Regions from separate parts of the Homo sapiens genome. Here region 2 is linked to region 1. Evidence: fine-mapped expression QTL. Tissue or cell type: whole blood. Region 1 holds a variant in brackets; the other region holds the start of a gene. All regions are shown on one strand. Distances are between the middles of the regions.

The links. PIP is the estimated chance that this variant, and not a neighbour inherited with it, causes the effect.
Region 2: ZNF484 starts here. The variant in region 1 is fine-mapped to the expression of ZNF484 in whole blood (INTERVAL, PIP 0.98).

What each region holds. Positions count from the first base shown.
Region 1 is chr9:92,817,274-92,819,958 of GRCh38, reverse strand. It overlaps the pseudogene ANKRD19P. Among named protein-coding and RNA genes, the nearest start is that of BICD2, 54 kb to the right of the region's middle. The variant A/G (reference allele first, on the strand shown) is at 1,484.
Region 2 is chr9:92,876,552-92,879,236 of GRCh38, reverse strand. It overlaps ZNF484 (zinc finger protein 484), which reads left to right and starts at 1,199. Exons shown (of 5, transcript NM_031486.4): 1 at 1,199-1,347. RefSeq lists enhancers at 956-1,395, 909-1,444.

The sequences.
Region 1 (2,685 bases):
CTTCTTCTGACTTGTAAAGTAAGATTGTCTTCCTTGGACTTAGAGAACCCCTTAGCTTTTTGAAAAATTCAAAGGAGGAAGGCATAGGAGGTAGCCCCAGGGGACAATACAAGATTTTCTGCTAAACTGGATATTTCAAGACCCAATAACTAATTAGAAAAGTCAGGCCAGGCATGGTGGCTAGCAGTTTGTGAGGCCGAGGCAGGAGAATCACTTGAGCTCAGGGACATGGGCAACATAGTGAGACCTTGTTTCAAAACAAAAGAAAGAAGAAAAAAAGTAAAAGATGTGACGTTATTTATATCTCACATATGAGGGTTATACTTGGAATAAAATGAACAACACTGAGATCCCTAGGGATAAAGGTCTTTAAAAGTCCTGAAAGAATCTTGCATTCATTGCTACTTCTAACTAATCTAGCTTTCTGTTTGATTTCTGGCTAAAAAGTGGACTAACTTGTTGCCATTCCAAACTACCTCAAACAAACTATGAACTGTCACCTAATGTATAAGATGCAATATTTGTAATTATTTTAAACCTTAATTTAGTATTAACTGGTCTTTTAATATAAGCACATACCTTCTGAAATTATAACAAACAGCATAATCCTCGGCAGTCTGGCCAAACAGGTCTTGAGAAAAGATATTTATATTTTGTTGAAGGAGGAGGCTGACGATACTTGATGAGTTATGCTGTACTGCAAGCATGAGGGCTGTTCTAAAATAATAAAGAAATAACAGCACTCAAGAACTTTAATAAAGATATTTCATTAGCAAATTGGATACACTTCACCAATTTCGTATCTTGCCTGTCAGGATAGACATAATAACCATATACATGTACTAGCTTATGTGTATAAGCATCTTGGGTGCTAAAGTGTTCATCTGGGTAAATTACCACCAAGACTAAAAGGCAGGGACAACAAGCAAGCTTCATGTTCCATTGGGATATGACATAATACAAGTTGCTAATTTATAGTCCTTTGATGGCCAAGAAACTGTGCTGAGGTCACTTATCTAAAGTAGGCAAAGATTTAGATGAAGATTTCCCCATTGCTTTCCTAGTCTGATACAGTGTAATTCAAAATCAGCTAGGGATCAAATAAGTAAGAGCTATCTGCAGGCTTAAAACAACAGCAATAATAATAATAATAATAATAGTAATAATAATAATAATAATGGTAATAGTAGTAGTTGTAAACTGAAAGTTAAAGTCTACGCTTTATAAAATTAATAAAATACAAAACCCCTTTAGCTAATATAAGATTACAGGACCAAAAATATCAGATTACAAGTAACGGTCTATAAGAGAAGATGAATCCTACTATATACTGTTTTTTATGTTTCTCAGTCCAAATAACTGCTTTTCTACCTAACTGATTATTCATGTTATTTTTTACTATATGCCAATAGTTATAAGTTAATCTTATTAACATTTCTGACTTGAGTGACTGTTACCACTCTAGAACATTCAGGTTTTTAGG[A/G]AAAAAAAAAAACAAAAAACAAACAAACAAAAAAACCAAAAACTATTGCACCTTCTGAAATTGTCAATGGCATGTAAATTTGCCTGGTTCTTCAACAGAAATTCCACAATTTGCTGTCTCCTAGAATTTATAGCAAACAAAAGTGGAGTGTTTCCCTCCTGTAAAAAGCAAAAACAATTTATAATTCACAAAATTACGTATTTCTTAACTGAACTAAAAATCTTCTATAAGATGCTATGAACTTAAACATGCAATATAGAGAGAAAGTAAATGCAAAGCAGTCCCGTCCTTTTCACTCCTCTGTGCTTTCCCACACACTGCCTTGAAACACCCCTCCTCTGCCTCCCCACGTTAACTTCGGTCATCTCCAAAACTCACTATGTTTACCAATCCCCAAAATCCTTGCTTCTATCTCAGCATTTAGCACAGTACATTGTAATTATTTCATTGTTTCCCACTGAAACCAAGAACTTCTTGAGGGCAAGGGCTGTATCTTTTTTCTCTATAACCCTAAAACTTAAGACATAGTAGCGAATGCTTTACGTTTTTAAAATAAATTAATGATCTAAATTATTATCTTTAGAGCAGTGTTTCTTAAACTATATTTCAAAGAATATTTGTTTTACCAGAAGAACTGTACCCCAACAAAAAGATTCCACGATCATCTGCATTTGAGAAGTATTACAAAACTGTATTACATGGCCAACAATCTAGAAATCCCTTGAACTTTGCCTAATCTCAATTTGACAATACTTTTTGTGGCAAACATTAACATTTTAGGAACTAGAGTTTCAGGGATCCTGTTGCCAGAGCTTCCCAGTACAAGTGGAGGTTTCCTCTGGGTGGCACAAACTTGCTTGATTCACTTCTATCAATGGTGTCAGGATGCCAATGTCAGGCACTCCTGGTCCAAAGGGGCCACTAAGGAAATGAGCTGTGAATTAAGAGAGATTGGCTTCAAATGCACTTATTTTCCTTATTATTAAATAGTCCATGGGATTTTTCCTAATACAAGAGGATAGATTTTTATCTTAACTATTAGAAAGTTCAGTATGTTCTGTGTAAGAGAGACCAGTTAAAAATTTTTGAAAATAAATATTAAAAAGCAAAGCTCAGTAAGAAATTTTATTCTCAATTATAATGATAATCCTGGGATGCTAATGCAACTTTACTTTTTAAATCCATTTGTATTGGTTTCCATT
Region 2 (2,685 bases), 59 kb before region 1:
ACCTTTAAATGTTTGTTAGAATTCTCTGATCTAGCTATCCAGGCCTTAAGATTTCTTTTTCAGATATTTCAAATTATGACTTCAGTTCTAGGGCTATTCAACATAACTATTTCATGTAAGAGAGAATTTGTGCTTTTTCAAGAATTAGTGCATTTCATCTATGTTGTGAAATTTATGTTTGTAGAGTTGTTTGTAGTATTCTCTTTATTCTTTTGATTTCGTCATGGTCTACAGTGGTATCTCCTGTTTCATTCTGGATATTGATATTTTGTGTCTCCTCTACAGATTTGTCAATTTTATTAACATTTACAGAACCAGCTTTTGTTTAATCGGTTTTTCTCTATTTTTCTTTTTACATTTTATTGAGTCATCTTCTTATCCTTATTATTTCCTTTCTTTCACTTGCCTTCGGTTTATTTTGCTCTTCTTTTTCTAGTATGTGAGGGAGCTTGGTTATTGCTTTGAAATTTTTTTCTTTTCTAATGTAAGCCCTTAGTGGTATATACATTTTTCTCTCACCACTGATTTAGCCACATCCCACAAATTTTGATATGTTGTGTTTCACTGTCATTCATTTCAATGTATTTTAAAAATTCATTCACTTTCACTTTCATTCATTTCAATGTATTTTAAAAATTTGAGACTTTCTCTCTGAACAATGGATTATTTAGCATGTGTTTTCACGTGTTTGGAGATTTTCCTTTTATCTTCCTGTTATTGATTTCTAGTTTAATTCTATTGTGTTCAGAGAACAAACTGTATGATTTCAGTTGTTTCAAATTTGCTGAGATTTGTTTTATGACCCAGGTTACTTCATATCTTGCTAAATGTCCCATCGACACGAATAAAATGTGTATTCGGCTGCGTTTGCGGTGTTACATAAATGCTGATTAGTTCCTGTTGATTAACAGTGTTGTTGTGTCCACAGAAGCATTGGAGAAAGACTGTAACCTGAGGTGATAGGCTTTGATTGTGTCCTGGCTTAGTATGATGGGACACACCTCTGCTTGCTTCCTTTCCTTTGGACAACCCTCAGCCTCTCAGTCTCTACATGACCTCAACATGGCCGCCCACAGGCCAGAGTGTCTACATGGGCGCCGCCATACTGGCGCCCAGCCTAAGCCGCTGAAACGGGAGCGTGTTTGGCAAAGCGCCATGTTGATTACTGGCAACCTTCAGGCCATGAAGACTGCTGAGCATGCGCAAACCCAGGCAGCGCTGTAAGAAGTACCTCTAGGCCTGGGAGGCATTGAGAAAAAGGAAGTGGGTCCTGTTCTGGTTCTTGCGACTATAGTCACCTCCCGAGGCAAATGACCACTGTCCTGAGAGGACGTGGGTGAGGGGCAGGTGAGTAGAGGGATGGCAGCATCTGTGGACTGAGCAAGAAGAATCTCTGATGTCTGTCCTGAGCCTTCCGGTCAGTGATGGGGTCGGTCAGTGGATGGAATAGTGGAAGTCGGAGCGATCTCTGATGGTGGATCTGAGGGAGGAGTGAGGGGGCACTGAGGGGTCTCTGGTGGTGGATCTGCAGGCGGAGTGAGGACGGACTGGGGGTCTCTGTCTGGTGGTGGATCTGAGGGCGGAGTGAGGGCGGACTGTGGGGTTGTGGGGGAGGATGACTATGGGAACTAAGGAGGGATCTGAGGAGTGTGAATGATGCACATCTTAATTAGTTTCCTCTCTTTTATACGTACCGATCTGTTTATATTTTCGTTTCTGTTTCATTATAATGATATATTTTGCTAAAGATTTAAAGAATATATTACATAGAATTGCATGTTTCCATTTCCATTTTGTTCTCTTTCATATCCAGACTAGTAGCTCCTTTATCATTACGGTTATTATATTTATATATCATTCATTCTTTCTCTATTTAAAAAGAATCAAGCGTCTGAAAGGTTTATCTGTTTCATTGGACATTTTGAAATGTCCAATAAAATACTCCCTACTCTTTTAATATTAATTTTTTTCTCTTTTTCTTTTTAGGTACTTTCTCTTTTTCCCACTTTTTGATGTAATTTGTTGTTCTTTCCCTTATTTTCTTAAGTTTTATGCGGGATACATTTAGGGTTGTAAAGTTTCTTTAAGTACATCTTTATGAAATGCATAAGTTCATTTTGATGTTTCCCTTTGAATCTTAGTTATTTAGGAGAGTTTATTCATTCCCAAATTATTAAAGTATGTTTTAGCTGTTTTTTATTTTATTGTATTGTCAGAAAATGCAGACTATCAAGTCTCAACTTTTAACAATTTATCAAGATTTTCCTTGAAGCCAAGTTACTCAATGAACTTTGTTCAACAGATATAAAAGAAAAATTATATTTTGTTGTATGGACCAAAATTCTCTTTAATTAAGTCTTGCTTGTTGGTATTTTTCAAATCTTTATCTTTCCTAATTTTGATCTACTTGTTTCATATTCTGGAGGAGATACAATAAAAATCACTTTTAATAGTTCATTTTGCAGTTATATGTGCTTTTTTGCTAATTTTATTTGTGCATCTGAGGGATGGGCATACATACACTTAATGGTTAGTGCATTTTTTATCCTTTTTCATGTATTAAGTGGTATTATTATAGGATCCCTTTTTTCAACCAAAAAGAAAAAAGAAAAACACTTTTTAACATCGAATTCCAAGAAAAACACTTTTTAACATCGAATTCCACGTTGATACTCACATTGCCAC